Linked DNA regions of Homo sapiens. The protein of the gene in region 1 purifies or fractionates together with the protein of each later gene. This does not show direct contact. Each region holds a gene or a part of one and is shown on either strand. Other genes may lie near its edges.

The links. Proteins that work in one complex are often made in the same cells at the same time.
Region 2: the proteins of IQGAP1 (region 1) and MAP2K1 purify together in Homo sapiens (affinity purification with western blotting; 3 studies listed by BioGRID, with this or other methods). This does not show direct contact.
Region 3: the proteins of IQGAP1 (region 1) and MYL6 purify together in Homo sapiens (affinity purification with mass spectrometry; 5 studies listed by BioGRID and IntAct, with this or other methods). This does not show direct contact.

Annotation. Positions count from the first base shown.
Region 1 is NC_000015.10:90,496,189-90,502,815, reverse strand, and holds the end of IQGAP1 (ras GTPase-activating-like protein IQGAP1), read right to left. Parts: intron 5,585-6,627; coding exon 5,476-5,584; intron 2,822-5,475; coding exon 2,708-2,821; 3' UTR 577-2,707; downstream 1-576. UniProt on the Homo sapiens protein: Plays a crucial role in regulating the dynamics and assembly of the actin cytoskeleton.
Region 2 is NC_000015.10:66,487,912-66,492,044, reverse strand, and holds the end of MAP2K1 (dual specificity mitogen-activated protein kinase kinase 1), read right to left. Parts: intron 2,831-4,133; coding exon 2,769-2,830; intron 2,328-2,768; coding exon 2,282-2,327; exon of another isoform or gene 1,544-2,281; coding exon 1,430-1,543; 3' UTR 501-1,429; downstream 1-500. UniProt on the Homo sapiens protein: Dual specificity protein kinase which acts as an essential component of the MAP kinase signal transduction pathway.
Region 3 is NC_000012.12:56,154,069-56,161,358, forward strand, and holds the start of MYL6 (myosin light polypeptide 6), read left to right. Parts: upstream 1-4,290; 5' UTR 4,291-4,333; coding exon 4,334-4,336; intron 4,337-4,615; coding exon 4,616-4,643; intron 4,644-5,518; coding exon 5,519-5,662; intron 5,663-5,906; coding exon 5,907-6,080; intron 6,081-6,174; coding exon 6,175-6,252; intron 6,253-6,557; coding exon 6,558-6,586; 3' UTR 6,587-6,602; intron 6,603-7,290. Other genes in the region: MYL6B (myosin light chain 6B), read left to right, coding at 1-24, 745-772, 987-1,130, 1,351-1,524, 3,400-3,477, 3,630-3,658. UniProt on the Homo sapiens protein: Regulatory light chain of myosin. Does not bind calcium.

The DNA of each region.
Region 1 (6,627 bases):
TATTTTTAGTAGGGGTTTCGTCATGTTGGCCAGGCTGGTCTTAAAACTCCTGATCTCAGGTGATCCGGCCCGCCTCGGCCTCCTAAAGTGTTGGGATTACAGGTGTGAGCCACTACGCCAGCCCCTTTTCTTCTTTTTTTACTGCTGTGATTTACTTTTTCCACATTCAACATCCCCTAGTCTTTTCTGGTGACTTCCAAGTGACATAGGAACCCCCTAAGGGGCACAGTCTATGTGCTCAACAACAGTATGCTGGTCAAAAAAGGTTAAATGCTGTTGCAATTTTAAACTTTCCACCGTTCGTCAATCAGAATTAAGTGACATATAATGTTTGCTTCCCGCAACACCCTTCTTTTTATGGTGAAGATAACTTAAGCATATTCATTAAAAAGGCTAAAGTCACACGTTCACACATTAAAAGTCACTTTGAGACATTCAATGATCTGATGGTGGACTTACGTTTTCTCCTTTAAAAGGAAGGGGTTGTCTGCTGTTGTGATTTTAACTGATACATCTCACTCTAGTCAAGGTGTTTAGCAGGAACTGTTAACAATGAAACTGAGAAAAACACAAACATGAACAAATGACCTTTTATTTCATACAGAGATACAAAGGCAACTATGTGCAGCAACAATCTGACGGGCAGTCCAAACTCTTGGGAGGAAGTAAATTCATGGTAAATGTCATGATGGCTGGTCGAGGAGAAGGTCAAAGGAGGAGAGAGAGGAGACAGAGAATGCTACAGCTAATAAATAACAGTAATGAGAACTGTGTGGTTTCAACGCCATGAGTTTGTTGGGGCATCCTCTGTGCTACTAAAGCCACAATTCTATATCATCATCATCAACATTCTTGAAGCGCATTTTACACTATTCTGCATTAGCAATTGTGTTGAGGGAACTATAAACCTTAAAATTACTGACACATTTTATTAAAGGAGCTGTAAACTCTGCTCATTATTGCCTGTCTTGGATGTGGCCTTTGGGATTCATAGCCTCTTTTAAGGAAACAGGGTTGACACACTTTGGTTGGTCCCAGTTTTTGAGGCAATGCTAGTTGTAATAGCATCATCTTTTAATCTGAGGAAAATGTTTCTTTAAAAAACCTGTCTTCCAAAATACAACAAAAAACAAGGTCTGGGTAGTGGCGAATCCTTCCATGGCACTCCATGCCTCCCTGTGGGCTGTAACCATGCACCTGAGTAAAGAGTCTCATAAAAATACTTCTCCAATGCATTTATAATAGGGACACACTACATAGTTTGTTATTCATTAAAGCAGTTTATTGGCTTAATGTACATCAGTGAATTTTTAAATGCTAAAAATTTATGATAAAAGAATACTGAATCAAAACATCAAAGAAAGAAAATAGAGGCTCAGCAGCATGATTTCAATATATTTTCCTGGAAAAAGTTTTTTTTTTTTTTAAAGTGTATGACTTTTTATCCAAGAACAAAAGCTTTCTAAATGCAATGTTTAGACTTGATTTTTTTTTTAAACTAAGCCCAGAAAACTGGGGCTCATAAAATAAAGGCACAATGTGGGCAGCAAGAGAAAAAAGGAGAAAAAATGGGGAAAAAATTGGTTTTAATCTCACGTGTAACATAGGTTGGCTGGTTTTGTTTTTGTTTTAGACAATTAAAGGCAGAATTATCTCCCTGAACACTGCAGATAAATCCTAGTGTTTTAGCTATAAGTTTCAAGAGTTCAGATATACAGATAAAGCAATTTAAAAAAAGCTTTTCTTATTCTAAGGCTTTTGATGCATTATATAAATCTTTAAAATTCCTATCACCCACATTTTAAGACATACATCTATACTTTAATAAGGCACTCTTAAGATATAAAACAGTTTTAAAAACAATGACATTCTACATTAGGGCTAACCCATTCCTCTGCCATAGGGATGGAGTGAATTGTCTCTCTGAATCAAGTCAATCTCTGTGCACCAACAAAAACAGGCAGGTGCCTTGACCCATTCTGAATTTATCTGAGTAGCTGAATTTTAGCAATGGGACTCTCCCATCCACTAGTCGGGGAGTTACACAAACAGAATTGCCCAAGTTTGATAATGAAATTTAAAAACATTATCTCCTTTTTTCTAGAAATGCTTCCTTTGAACATGACTGTCACTTCCATTAGCTCCTGTCCATAAAGAAAAACACAATGGAAGATAACCAATGATTCCCCATATCCTTCAGTTTTCCTGATGGGACAGAAATATAAAGGAACTTTATTTTTAAATGACAACCTAATAACTGTTAATAACATGACATTTTAGTTGTGTGTCTTGTATGTATTTATGTCATTGGTGCTAATAGCTTCCACTTCTAAATGACACACATTTGAATCCTACCATCCCTATTGCTAATTAAACAAACACCAAAGCTTACAATATAGTACTGCAACCTCTAAGACTGTAACAACACAGAGAAATTTTAGTGGAGTTTCCACTCTTTCCTAAGTAATGGAAGAAAATGAAGAAACCAGAAAGGTCAGACTAAGCCTGAAACACAATTTCACTATGAAAAAAGGGTAACAAATGTCCCATCAGAGCGAGAGGAGTTAAAAATGTGGCATCGGGAGTGTATCAGATTGAGGTGCTGTTGTTGGCTAGGTCTTTGCTTCCAATGAGGAAAGAAGGACCTAGAAAGGAGCTGTGAGGTGCTTCTTTCCTTCATCCTTCTGGGCTGGCAGCAAACGATCAATTACTTCCCGTAGAACTTTTTGTTGAGAAGGAAGATCAGGAGGTTGACATTTACTTTAGCTCTATCAAATAATTTCATGACTGCAACTCCTTCATACTGTAGCTGCAGCAGGTCCTATTAACAAAACAAAACAAAACAAAACAAAACATTTTGACAGTTAATCAAGTCTGTGGAACAAGGAAAAAGGACACAATGTAGGGAGGGATCCAGATGGACTGAGGCCTGCCTTGTGTGCCAGATGTGAACTGGGGCGAAAGAAAAGTTCCACGCTAGGCAACTACCCACTGCACAACCAGCCTGAGAGCTGGAGCAATAGGGCACATTGGCCAAGGGAGGCTTCTGGTTGATTTGGAGTTAGGAAGTCATGTTGTTCATATCAAAATTCATCATACATGGAAAGAAAAAGAAACATGTTCAATTGCCACACACATCTAAGCTTTTTATTTCAGAAGTCACAATGACATTTTCCCATTTCATCCATGTTATGGGTCACTAGTTTTAATAAATCTGGAAAAGGTGAAGCATTTAAACCTATGATGAAATATACTAAGCACGGGGAAATGAGATAAGGCTAGTAATGTCACCTTAATACTATCTGATAGATTCTTAATTTCTATTCCATATGAGAACACTTTCTATCCCGAAGGCAAGGGGAAAAGAGAGAACTTGATGTTTTATTAGGTGTCTGCCATGTGCTTGGCATTGTGTAAGCACATTACATAGTATCTTTTAAAGTCCTCACAAAAATTTTTATGAGGTGCGATTATTCTAACTTTAAAGATGAGCTACTGAGACTCAGAGATGTTAAATGACTTGCACAACAGGACAGAGATGGAGGCGATAAATCCAGATCTGACTGCAATGCTCCCGCTTTTCCTGCTACTTTCACCATTGTCCTGAACAAGTTTAAGAAATCTGAGTGGTCTCACTTCTGAACTTTATAAGAGTGGTGATGAGAAAGCAAGGGTCAAAAGTCTTGAAAGGACCCCACAAGGCCGGGTGTGGTGGCTCACGCCTGTCATCCCAGCACTTTGGGAGGCCGAGGCAGGCGGATCACGAAGTCACGAGTTAGAGACCAGCCTGGCCAACATGGCGAAACCCTGTTTCTACTAAAAATACAAAAATTAGCTGGGCGTTGGGGCGTGGTGGTGCACGCCTATATTCTCAGCTACTCAGGAGGCTGAGGCAGGAGAATCACTTGAACCCAGGAGGCGGAGGTTGCAGTGAGCCGAGATTGTGCCATTGCACTGCAGCTTGGGCAATAAGAGCGAAACTGTCTCAAAAAAAAAAAAAATTAGCCGGGCGTGATGGTGTGCGCCTGTAATCCCAGCCACTCAGGAGGCTGAGGCAGGAGAATCACTTGAACCCACGAGGTGGAGGTTGCAGTGAATGGAGAACACGCCACTACACTCCAGTCTGGGAGACAGGGCGAGACTCTGCCCCCCCCTCCAAAAAAAGAAAGGACCCCACAAGTTCAATTATCTGTTGGAAAAATCCTAGCAGCTCCATGAGGGCTGCTGGGACCTGTGCCTAACAGAATACCCCACACCTGGCAGTTACCCCACATTTAATGAATTTGTACATAAATTAATAAATTACCACAGGCAGACTGGTTGGCCTAACATGATTTGGTTAAAAAATTTAAAAATAAAAATATGTTCTGATAACTCCACGTAAATAAAAAATTTTAAATTAAAAAAATAATTTGGTGAAACTGAGGGAATAAGAGGTTCCTATTCTTTTTTTTTTTTTGGTGGAAGTACTTTAGTTAGCTGTGTGCATCACAAAATCATTTCACATTTGTTTAGCTAACATGTTTTAATGGTCTACTGGTCATTGAGAAGGAAACGAAGATGACTAAGAAATGCTACCTGTCCTTAAGGAGTTTATGGCTTTAGCGGGGAGAGGGGAAGTAAGTCAACACCTACTGTAAACAGAGGATGTCTGCAAGGGCTACAGAAGCGAAGGGGAAACCACCTATTATGGCTTGGCTGGGGGAGGCACACCCATGGAAGTACTCCATGGAGGAACAAAAGGGGCGGGGTTGGGAGGCAGGGGAGGGGAGGGAGGGCAGCATGAGCAGAAGCCCAAATGTACATTGACAGGAAGGCACCTGCCCGGGCTGGCAGGGCATGGCTGTGTGAAGCAGTGCAAGAAAGGAGAGAGAAGCAGACTAACCGGTGCCACACACACAAAGCTAAAGGAGTCTGGATGTCACCTAGGAATCCTCTCGATGCCCTGTTATTTTTTAACGTGTAAAAATCAGATATTTCAAAATAAAACTTAGGGATCTTTATGCTACAAAAATGAATTACTCCCGAGTTCTTTTTGGATTTAAGATAGAATTCAGTTTACAAACATAAACTTTACACACACCTTGTCAGAATGTATCTAACTTTTAAGTACCTATATCAAATCAAAATGACAAAAAGATTTCAAGCTACTGAGTGGGCTTAGAATTCTGCAGTGTCAGCATGTGTACTTCTGCATTTTGTTCAAGTCCAAGGTGTCAGCTCGATTTAGTGGCAGCACTAAGTGGAAGCTTCAGCTAAATGTTTTCTGAAGAGTGACATCTGCAAAAGCTCTCCAGAGCGCACACACCAAACCAGACATGCTGAAACCCTCAGCTTCTTTCCCCGCAGTGTGGAGCCTAGCTCACTGCTGAATGTAGACAGCTTTCCTCAGATGAGTCTCCTCTTTATCTATTTCTCCTACTTGGACAAGAATCTCATCCAGAAAGTTTTTGGTTCCTGCTGGTGCATACCCACCTGATAATGTAACATAAAAGTCTCCATTTGAACTCCCATGAATTTGGCTTTCACTTCGAAGTCTCCAACTTCTTCTGTTGGACTGATTTCAAATATAACATTTTTAAACCTGTTGAAAGATAACATCGTAAGGGTATGGTTTTTATATTCTCATATAAAAATATTCTGTGAAATGGGGAAAGGAGATGAACCAAGTCTTCAAGAGTGAAAAGGGCTGCAGAAAATACAGGTCAAAAGTACTTCTGCAGCTGAAGCAGCACAGATTGCCAAGCCCAAGTACCATCTGCTCTGGGACTTGGAGAGAGGAATGGCAACCTCTCTCTGCCTGCAGCACTTACATCCTATCAAAGAGGAACCACTGAGGAGTTCCACAAGTGGCGTGTGAAGGGATGACATCATAGGAATTCTCTTCACTTCCACATGGCCAAAAAGGAAACCTAATGATAAAAGGAGAAAACGGAGGACACTGGGGAAGGAGAGGGTGTATGTGTTTGAATACATGCATGTTTGAGGACTGGGAGAAGTAAATAAACAAAAGGGGGTCCGTATAAAAAGCACCAAGGGAGGAGGTTTTCTAGAAAGAGTAGGTGCTGTGTATATAAGCACACTCAGTATTACCAAAGATAAATTGTTATTATTGAACGTATTTAAGTTATCACTCATTCACAATATGTTACGTGCCAGGAAATTTTGGGGGGCCAAAAGGAAAAGGTATTATGCAGCCGGGCACAGTGGCTCACATCTGTAATCCCAGCACTTTGGGAGACCGAGGCGGGCGGATCACGAGGTCAGATCGAGGCCATCCTGGCCAACATGGTGAAACCCTATCTCTATTAAAAATACAAAAATTAGCTGGGCATAGTGGCATGCACCTGCAGTCCCAGCTACTCAGAAGGCTGAGGCAGGAGAATTGATTGAACCCGGGAGGCAGAGGTTGTAGTGAGCTGAGTACCATACCCTATCACCACTGCAGTCCAGTCTGGTGATAGGGCGAGACTCCGTCTCAAAAAAAAAAAAAAAAAAAAAAAAAAAAAGGGATTATGCTGTTCTCTGGATGATCAAAGTATAGCACCCCAGATTTCCAGAACTCAACTATGGAGCTGCCTTACCTATTACGAACAGGGCTGAGAACCATGAAAGATGCAAAAAGGT
Region 2 (4,133 bases), about 24 Mb from region 1:
GGAGACAGACTGTCCTATGTTGTGCAGAAAGCTCCCACACCAGGTAGGCAAGCTGGCCACCAGCAAGGCCCTCCTATGAGCATGACAGCCTAAAAGTGCAGGCAGGCCCTCAGCTCAACTATTGGTATATGGAAAATGAGAAATGTTCTGTGAGATAAGAAATGTTTTGTCATTTTTCTCAGATTTGCTCCCAGTCCCCCATCAGCTGCTTTTCCCTTGTATAAAAGAGATCAAAGGAATATACAGGATCTATTCACAGGTCCCACAAGGAAGGTGGTTGGAAGAGTCACAGATAAGGGTGTTGGGTGAGAAGAGCTGGACTGAGTCCAGAGATTGAAATTACAGGAAGCCCCATTAGTCCAAAGCACTGAACTCGGTGTCCTGTTTCTGCCTTCCAGCCTCCTCCTCATCTTCACCTTTCCCCCTCACCAGTGTTGCTTGGCTAAACCAGTATTTCTTGTGTACTAAAGAAACTGAAAAGCTTACCACAAAAGCAAAAGTAGCTTTCATCCTTTTTTTTTTATTTCATAGTATATTTATTAGAATAAGAGATTAGATTTGTTAAACATCTAGGTTAAAATGGTTAAAAGGATTTTCATACAATTTTAGGCACTATACACGTTGTTTACAACAGCATTGGTACTTGGATATGGGGAAAGATAAATCCGACATTTTAATATCTTGATCAATTTGTGACATTCAAAATAATTCCATTTAAGAAACATTAATCAAAACTTAAAGAGACATACCACTAAGTATCCCACACAGTATACTGAAAATAAATATAGAAATACAACCAGAAGTCTACAGATCACCACAGTAGACAGACTGGTGAAGCCCCAGCTATCATGGCAGTGAAGGGCTCTGGCTAGATTTGGATGTCAACTGCTGAGTTCTACATGAAAAGCAAATAATAATAATAAAATAACATGATGTACACTCTCTGATGCTCATTTTCATAGCAGCAAAGCATGCTTCACATGCACTGCCTGTGAAGGATCTCACAAGGCTCCCTCCTAGAGAGAAAGTATGCCCAGCAAGAATAAAGTACCACCAAATGTCAAAGAATCCCGAAAATACAGGCAGACAGCCAGTCATGGAGCAGGAACAGCAGTGCAATTGTAAGAATGACTACCCACATTCACCAAAATTTCACTGTAATTCAGCCTGGCACAGGTTTTGATCATCAGCATACACACAAATAGCCCCAAGCACAAAGCCAATCCACTTAGGGGAACAATAATAGTAATAAGAATAAAGACAGTAATATTAAAAATGACAAGAGTAGAATCTTGGCACATGCTGTGTTCTTCATCCTTTGTCACAGGTGAAATGCACATCTGAACAGAGACAGGCATGGGAAGGAGGCCCAAAAGCGACATGGCAAACCACCGGGCAGGGGACTCGCTCTTTGTTGCTTCCCAAACACTTAGACGCCAGCAGCATGGGTTGGTGTGCTGGGCTGGTTAAGGCCGATGGTGGAGCAGAGCCAACCTGCAAAATCCACTTCCTCAGCATCAGATCTCTTGATAAAAGCATGAACCTGCATGTAAGGAAACGAGAGGACGTGGTGTTAAAAAGAAACAAAAAAACAAAACCCACCAGGAAGGAAAATCCAAGAGTTTCAGGTCTAGAGCTTGTGCTGCACTTGGAAAGAGCACCTGGCACCTGCCCCTGAGCAACAGTGGGGCCAGCTGCAGGCCCAAAGACCTGCTCCACCAGTCACAGCAGCTGTGAGGCCTTGGGCAAGTCACCTCTTGGAGCCTACTCGTGCAGTATGGAGACAGTAACTCTGCCTTAAATGCCTCACAGGCTTGTTAGAAGGGACAAAGAAAATGATGGACTTAGTGCATATTATATACTATATACACCGTCTATGGCTGTCCAGATATTTACAGTATTACTTAGCTATTTCCACTGCCACCAAACGAGACAGCAGGCGGAGAGTGACTCTGGAAGGAGGCTGAATGTAAGATGAGGCAGTCAGTATTAGGGAAAGGCCGCATCCCCATGAAGGGGGTGGGCTGGCCTTTTCTTTCCCATGGCCCCCTCAGGCATTTCCTCTGGCATATGCTTACTCAGGCTGCGGGGGTCACCCCAGCTTTCCCTTAAACTGATGGGAGAGCAAAGGAGACTGGTGTTTGGTATTCTGCAGCCCCAGGCTCAGCTGGACCACAGTGGGCAGGGAATGAATGGGCTCTGGAAGTACTGCACAGATGACTGACAGAGAAGAACAAATGAATAAACAGGTACTGTAAGAATCCGGAATAAATAGACTCACCATGAGTTGCTTCAAATCTGCTCTCTCTGCGGGGTTTTTTATTAAGCTTAAAGGAAGAAAGACAAGGTAAGAGCTGTTGCCTGGCACTGGTTCTAGCTCAAATAACATGTTTGCATGCCTGTCTTCTCTGCACACTAGAGGCCGAGGATTGCCTGGGCTTGATTCATCCTCCTGTTCTAAGCACAGTATCATGCCCACAGTAAGTTAATACATTCTTGCTGAGTTAAACTAAGGTCAAAAAGCAACGTGCCAATCCCTGGAGAGCAAGTACCAAAAGGAGCAGCTACTACATCCATGATGTAGTTAGACATGCCACATAAGTCTTGGCACTCTAAAAAAGGGCTTATGGCAGCAGCCAAGAATCATCAGACGGGAGGGTAAAGGGCAAAACTCTGCCTGCAGAAGCAATGCTGGTGCTTCCAGAAATGGGGTGGGGAGCCTGACAAATCCAGAGTATACGCTTCCAGAGAACAAGGAGCCAACTTACCATTTATTCACAAAATCTTGAAATTCCAGACTGAACACTCCACTGGGCAGTTTTGGAGGAGGCTGCAAACACATGTTGAGATAAGAAAAATGCCTGGCTCCTTGCTCCAGCCATCTCCTCTCCCCATCCCACCCCTCCCACCAGCCAGTGCTACTTTTTTTTAAAGTCTTCTCTGCAGTCCAAAGGCAGTACTACTCTCATCCAGTCAAGGAAAGGCACAGGTAGAAGGCCAGTGCTGCCTGTTGGGTAACCATGTTGGAACCACTGATCTCAAATAGCACATTTAGAATTGGGACCAAGTCAAGTCCACTCACTTGTCGGGTGATTTTGAACTAATCACTATTCCTCTATGAGCCTCAGTTTACTCTTCTATGACATGAAGAGGTTGGGCCTAATGATCTCAGGGACCCTTTCAAGCTCTGACACTCTACAATGGTAAATCTTGGAGTGCGGCATGGGAACGTAACCAGCAATTTACTGGCAGCAACAGCTAGGGGCACGTGCAAACCACCAGGCATAGCCCAGGTCTGACAGCACCTGCAGAAGCAAACCGGTTTTTAAAAATCCCTTTTCTGAGCCCTAGAGAAGCAGTGAAAAGTTAATAAAACATTAACTGACAGAGGGCTGGATCTGGAAGAATGTTACCTGTACATTCCAGAAATGAGGCTGTTTTCAGATTTTCCCATGGTGATCATGCAGCACTATACAGTACAAGGCTCTGGAGCACTGGGCTCATGGCGTTCCATGCAGTCCAGGAAATGTGGGCCCACTTATGTACCTGGGCTGGGAGCTGTGTGTACCCATGCTGACCCACAGACATAATGTCCATGATGTCACTGCTCTGATGTACAGCCCAAAATCTCGTTTTTAATTTGGGACTAAAAATGAGACACTGATCCCCACCACAAAGCCCAACCTAGTGCTCTTCCTTTGAGGGCCATGTCAGTCTGATCTTAGGTGAGGACTAGAACTCAGCTCTTAGAACAGTGACCCAGAGCAAGCCCCATTCTGCAGACTGTCCCCACTGCTGAGGGAATCAAGGGACCATTCAAGGAAGAGAGGAGACCAGCAGCTTGGCCTCCAGAGGCAGCATCCATTCCTTCTGAACAGGAAAGAGCTAGGCAGCAGAGGGGCTGTGTGCCAGCAGAGGCTGCAGTAGAACAACTGCCATGCAGCCAAGCCTCCTAGGAGGTAAGAATGGGAGGTGGGAGGTGGCAAGGAAGAAAGAGCACTGGGTGGGAAGGACCTGGGCTACTTTTCATCTCGGAGGCTCAATTTCCTCACCTGTTTGAAGAGGAACCAATTTGGCCTACCTCAGCAATGCTTGGGAGAATTGCATGGGAAATTAATGTGAAAATTTGGAAG
Region 3 (7,290 bases), on another chromosome or scaffold:
CCAGTCGATCTCTCCAAAGTGGTGGTGAGTCTCTGGAAAGTGAAGATAGAATTGGAGGGGGTGGTTTGAGGGTGGGATACAGCCTAGGGGATTAGGGGGTATCTAGAAGGTAGGGAATCAGTGAGCCCTGGAATGAGATTGGGGCTTTCCCTTAGTCCCCCATTTGGAAGCATCCAGTCTTATGACTCTGCTGTTGTCTTTGCTGTTCTCTCCCTCTAACCTATAATCATGTGTGTACAGCACATACACACTCACTTACCCCCTGCTGGAGGCAGGGACTCTTAGATGGGGAACATCTGGGTTCTGAGAACAGTTTCAAGGTGAAGGGAAGAGAGCTGTTGCCTGCCCCTGGCTGGTGGTTCAATTCAAAAGGCCTGCAGCTCTGAACTCCAGGAGGGGAGGCTGAAGAGGACAGACTTGTTAGACAATCACAGCTGGGGGCCAGGGGTAAATTTAGCCTTTGTTCAGCCCCCAGTTATGTGTGGGATGCAGGGCTCAGGGCAATGGAGGGAGGGAAACAGGTGGCATGGGATTAACCCTGTTCCCAGGAAACCCTCCCCACTGTAATTCCTCTTCTTGGGATTCTCCCAAGGCCCAGAGCTGGGAATGGGACTGAGGTGGCTGGGCTTCCAGCCTGGTCCCTTTGGGCCCCTCCTCAGAAGTGGCTGCCAGTTGGTTGGGAGGAGTGCGGGAGAGGGATTGAATAAACTCTCATCTCTCCCCACCTGCTTTTTTCTTCCACAGATCGAGTTTAACAAGGACCAGCTGGAGGGTGAGGAGAAGCTCATCTAAGGCCACTGTCCCATCCCCAATCCCCTGGTCAGATTCTCTTTCTATTCCCCTAACCCCAGTCCTGACCTTGAAACCTCCCATACTAGTCCTCTTTTCCTCCCTTGTTCTGTTCACATAGTTTCTGAAATTCCCTTCTGTCTGGGGGTGATGGGAACCCTAGTCAGTGTCTACACTGACCCTTCCTTATACTTTAGAGTTCAAGGAGGCCTTCGAGCTGTTTGACCGAGTGGGGGATGGCAAGATCCTGTACAGCCAGTGTGGGGACGTGATGAGGGCCCTGGGCCAGAACCCCACCAACGCCGAGGTGCTCAAGGTCCTGGGGAACCCCAAGAGTGATGGTGAGGGGACCCTTGGGAACAATTTGGGTTTTTAGTTTTCAAAAGTTGGATGTTGGTAACAAAAAGAATGAGGTGGATCTCAGGACTTCAAAAACTGTCAAACACAGAAGCAGGAAAATATCCTAAATGCTGAATAGGATGAAAGCATTGTGGTAGGGTTGGGAGCTGGGTCCTATGTAATACTACAATGACCTCTCCTTTACCTCTCTCCAACCTCCAGAGCTGAAGTCGCGGCGTGTGGACTTTGAGACTTTCCTGCCCATGCTCCAGGCAGTGGCCAAGAACCGAGGCCAAGGCACATATGAGGACTACTTGGAGGGGTTTCGTGTGTTTGACAAGGAGGGGAACGGCAAAGTCATGGGAGCAGAGCTCAGACATGTTCTCACCACCCTTGGTGAGGCAGGCAAGGGGGACCAGAACTCCTTTAGAGTGGAGAGGGGGATGGGGTGGGCCAGAAAGACTGGACAGATAAGCAGAGCTAGCAGGAGGCTTACTGTCCTGCAGGTTGTCGGCAGGAGACTGAGAAGGTCAGAGCTATGGGGGTAGAATCTGAAGGACTCGCTCTTCCAGAGGCTAAAGTGCCATCCGGAGGGCAGAGGAAAAGGGATGAGGCGGGAAACCTGAATTTTCATTTTGGAAGAGACGTGTGGGTTGTGTGTTCTGGTACAAGTCTCGTAACCTCCTGGGATTGTTTCCTTGTGGGTCAATACTTTCAGCAGTACTAGGGTGAAATGGAAAGCAAGAGGCATCCATGACCAGGGGAGGATTCCCTTGAGGACTGAGGCTATGGGAGAAGAAGAGGTACCACTCTAAAGAGCGTGGCCTGGCCAGGTATGGTGGCTCACGCCTGTAATCCCAGCATTTTGGGAGACCAAGGCGGGCGGATCACCTTAGCTCGGGAGTTCGAGACCGGCCTGGCCAACATGGTAAAACCCCATCTCTATTAGTAATATAAAAACTAGGCGGGCATGGTGGCACGCACCTATAATCCCAGCTACCCAGGAGGCTGAGGCAGGAGAATCGCTGGAACCCGGGAGTCTGAGGTTGCAGTGAGCCGAGAGATCATGCCACTGTACTCCAGCCTGGGGGACAGAGCAAGGTTCTGTCTCAAAAAAAAAAAAAAAGGCCAGACACGGTGGCTCAAGCCTGTAATCCCAGCACTTTGGGAAGCCGAGGCAGGCGGATCACTTGAGATCAGGAGTTCAAGACCAGCCTGGCCAACATGGTGAAACCTCGTCTCTACTAAAAACACAAAAATTAGCCAGGCATGATGGCGGGTGCCTGTAATCCCAGCTACTTGGTAGGCTAAGGCAGGAGAATCGCTTTAACCCGGGAGGTGGAGGTTGCGGTGAGCCGAGACCGTGCCACTGTACTCCAGCCTGGGTGATAGAGCAAGACTCAGTTTAAAAAAAAGCAAAACAGCATGGGCTGGCCGGGAGCAGTGGCTCACTCCTGTAATCCTAGCACTTTGGGAGGCCAAGGCAGGAGGATCGCTTGAGCCCAGGAGTTCGAGACCAGCCTGGGCAACGTAGTGAGATTCTATCTCTATTTAAAAAAAAAAAAAGTACAAGGCTGGGCGTGGTGGCTCACACCTGTAATCTCAGCATTTTGGGAGGCCGAGATGGGCAGATCATTTGAGCTCAGGAGTTCGAGACCAGCCTGAGCAACATGGCAAAACCATGTCTCTACAAAAAAATTTAAAAATTAGCCAGGCGTGGTGGTGCACGCTTGTAGTCCCAGCTACTTCGAAGGCCGATGTGAATCACTGGAGCCCAGGAGGTGGAAGTTGCAGTGAGCCATGATGATGTCACTGCACTCCAGCCTGGGTGACAGAGGGAGACCCTATCTCAAAAAAAAAAAAAAAAAATTACAATTGTTATGTTTATATTGTTGTTTACAAAAATATATGGAAAAAGCCAGGCGCGGTGGCTCACGCCTGTAATCCTAGCACTTTGGGAGGCCGAGGCAGGTGTATGACCTGAGGTCAAGAGTTTGAGAGCAGCCTGCCCAACATGGCGAAACCTCGTCTCTACCAAAAATACAAAAAATTAGCCGGGCGCCTGTAATCCCAGCTACTCGGGAGGGTGAGGCAGGAGAATCGCGTGAACACGGGAGGCGGAGGTTGCAGTGAGCCGAGATCGCTCCGCTCCACTGCACTCCAGCCTGAGCGACAGGAGCGAAACTCCGTCTCAAAAAAAAAAAGGAAAAGCGTGGCCTGGGTGAGTGAAGGAGGGAAAGGAGGGCCTCAGACGTTGTGTCTGGGATTCAGGAGAGAAGATGACTGAGGAGGAGGTGGAGACCGTTCTGGCAGGACACGAGGACAGCAACGGCTGCATCAACTACGAGGGTGAGGGGACAAAAAAGCGGGAGCGGGGCCGAGGGAGGAGGGCAGCCTGGCGTCTTGCCGCGTGTGGGCGGGGGCACCCCTGGATTACCTAGAGTCAGATGTATTATCCAAAGGCCTGCTTCTGAAGCCCCTCTTGCCTCCTCTCTCTGCAGCCTTCTTGAAACACATCCTAAGCGTCTGAGTGCTGCAGGTAGGGCCCTCCCACCCCTTCGCCGCGCCTTACGAGGCAAGTCTCCCGCCCTTCTCTCAGCCAACATAGAAAAGCAGCGGAGTTCATTCTGCTGTCCGGTTGCTGCACGGGCTCCAGCGCTTCGCAACTTTGGTTTTTTTCCACAGATCCAGTGGGGTCCGGACACTGGGCCCCGCAGGCGAAAGCACGTTCCAGCCACCAGGAGGCCACCTATTGTTTCAAAATAAAGACTGGGTTCCTCTCTTGGTTTCAGACTGCTATTTTTTTCATGGTTGGGGGAGCAGCGGGAGACGGGGAGGGTGCTAGGAGGAGAGGGCGGGAAAAGAGGGCTCTCTCCTCTTCCAATCCTCTGATCTTCCTGCTGTTGGGAGGTGCAGATTCATTGTGCCCCAGCCCACGTCCCCCCACGACCCCCGCCCCCCCACCTCCCCCCACGACCCCCCCCACCTCCGAGCGGGTTCTGTGCCCAGGTGGCGCTGGAGAAAGGAACAGCGGACCCCGCCCAAGTCATTACTAATGTAGCAATCGTCTGCATAAACCCAGGCCACGGTTCCTATTGGCTGAGTCCTCTGAGGGTGACGTCATCGGGACGTACTAAGACTAGGGTTGGGCCGAGAGTCGGAGCCATTACTGCAGGAAAAGGTCCCGGAGAGCTGAGCAGTCAAGATGGTGGGGCCCAGGTCTTGGGAGACGGGCAGGATTGGGGACGAGAGGCAGGAAGAGACGGGTGGGGGGCGAGGAGAAGGCAGGGGTAGGAGGCAAAGGGAATCTGAGGACCCGAAAGGTTGGAGGTGGGGTTGGAAAGACTGGGGCCCTGCGGGGAAGCGAGTCTGCAGCCTGAAACAGGAGTTTGTGGGTCAGAGTTTGTGGGTCAGAGTTTGTGGGGCTGGGATAGAAACTCGGGGGATTGGCGTTCAGATGCTGACCACTTCCCTCTTCTCTGAGCAGTGTGACTTCACCGAAGACCAGACCGCAGGTAGGTTATCTCTGATCCCTACCGAGGTCACCCTTAGGGAGAGGGACACCCTCCCCCCAGCACCTATCCTCTAATCTTAATCTGTCATCTCTTTAGCACCCCCATGAGATTACCCCCTGGATTATTTTCTCTTCTTCTGGATCCTCCATTTTCTTTTCTCACTTTCTTCCTCCCTCCCCTTCCACTCTAGATCTGATCCCAAGCACTGGGTGAGTTTTAGGTGGTGTGGGTATGTGAAAAAACTTGGTCACTTAATGCCTGCTGTGTGTGGGGTCTCGGGAGGGTGTATAAAGCTGCCTGCTTTCCTTTGTCCTTTAATCAGCTACTTCTGCCTCTTTTCTCCTCTTGTGATAACTGTCCCCGCCCTCCCAGCTTGCAGTTGTGAAGATTGTAGAGCAGTGACCTGATATTCTGTGCAGATGGGGACAAGACAGGGGAGTTTGCTAAGGATATGACTGTAGCTATACCCTCTGGAAGTTCTCTTTATACTGGAGGGGTGCGAAGTGGCAGGTTGGGATGACCCTAGTCCCAGGCTGCTGCTCCCACTTCCTTATAAGGACAGGACTGAGACTGGGCGGTGGCGAATTCCTGCCCTGAGAAGTGTAGTAGCAGCAGTGGAGATTGGCAGGCCTGCCGCAGGCAGAGGGGTTGTGTAAATGGATGTTACCAGGCTGCCAGAAGGGGAGGAAGCCTCTATATAGAACACTTGAGTTGGGAGGAAGAGAAATAGAGCCCTCTTAAGTAGACTTTGGTGTACAGTTTGGTGCAGATATCTCGTTTCCTCAGCATGATCAAAGTTGAATGGGCAGCAGAGCTCTGAGGTAGGGTTTGGATTAACCCTCAAATCCTGTGTTGACATTCATCTGAATCCTCAGAGTTCAAGGAGGCCTTCCAGCTGTTTGACCGAACAGGTGATGGCAAGATCCTGTACAGCCAGTGTGGGGATGTGATGAGGGCCCTGGGCCAGAACCCTACCAACGCCGAGGTGCTCAAGGTCCTGGGGAACCCCAAGAGTGATGGTGAGGGGCCTAAAGAACAACTCCTCAGTGTGGTCATGGGCCCACAGTTCTTCAGCTAAGAGCTTCCCTTTATCTTCATAGGCCCCAAACTCAAGCAAGTCTGGATTAGCAAATCCCATGGATTTCCTTGCTTTTAGTGGGGAGTCATCTGTCATCTCTCTGTTCAGTTGAGGTCTCTATAATCCCCTGTCCTGAGAACTTGTGTTACTTCTCTGGCCTGACACTTCCACCTCCTTTATGGCAGAGATGAATGTGAAGGTGCTGGACTTTGAGCACTTTCTGCCCATGCTGCAGACAGTGGCCAAGAACAAGGACCAGGGCACCTATGAGGATTATGTCGAAGGACTTCGGGTGTTTGACAAGGAAGGAAATGGCACCGTCATGGGTGCTGAAATCCGGCATGTTCTTGTCACACTGGGTAAGGTTCTGTGTCCTTGTCCTTGAGCTGAGATGGCACCCTGAGGTACCTCACTTGTCACCCAATTCCAAAAATGCTTTCTTTCCCCCTGCAGGTGAGAAGATGACAGAGGAAGAAGTAGAGATGCTGGTGGCAGGGCATGAGGACAGCAATGGTTGTATCAACTATGAAGGTAAGAGGTGAACTGCGCTTTCTCAGAGAAAGCAGCCATATGGGGCAGGTCAAGTATAGTGTCTGGGGCTTTCCCTATCCCTGGACTTGGGCTCCAAAAAGAGCCAGGAGGCAAGGTGCAGGGCCCTGCCCAGCCCAGCCCAGGAGTGGGAGGTCAGGGCGGTATAACAGGAAAGGAAGGGGGTAGTATTGTAGAGGGTGGGAAGGAATGAGAAGTGAAATAATGGAATGTCTGTCCCCACTGCCTGACCCCTCACCCCATGTCTTTGTCTTGTCTTCACCATGAATGTCTCTTCCTTCCTGCAGCGTTTGTGAGGCATATCCTGTCGGGGTGACGGGCCCATGGGGCGGGTACGGCTCCTCCCAGCCTCTCCTCTAGTTGATCTCCCCAGTGTTTCTTTTTTCCCCAACCTGTGCTCTTTATCCCCTGCCCTTACCCTACTACCATCTGACTTCCTCCTGGCATGTTTCTGCATGGAGCTGACTAGGGAGGGGAGGGATTCCTCAAAGAGGAAGACAACCTGGGGGTACAGTACCTCCTTACCTCTAGAATGGGCCCTGAGGTTTTACTTATGCGGCCCTGGGTGCTGGTGTCTGGGAACTCTCACCAGCCTGTATACCAGTCTTGCTTTAGGGTGACCTTCTGGCCCTGGAGCATGGGTAGCTGGCATAGAGGGGTATGGGTTGCCTGCCCCATTCTGCTGCTATAGCTGAACAGTCCTTTCCCCTTCCCTCGCTGGGCAGCTTGGAGGTACCCTAACCCAAAACTCTGTCCTCTCCTCCCGCCAGTGGCTGACAGTAGCTGTAGGTGTAGTGGAGAACTTTTCTGCCTCTGCTGTGTTCTTGCTGCTTAGGTTTGGGTGGGGGACTAACAGCTGCTGGGAGGGGAGCTAGGGGCATGGAGAACTGGTCAGACTCAAGGTGGCTCCTCTGCAAACTGACCCCAGGGTTGGTTGCTGTGGGCATGTTCCCGCTTATGCTACCTTTGCAGTCTGGTAGTCCCCTGGCCCTTGGCGTACCCCTCCACAGCCCTGTTCCC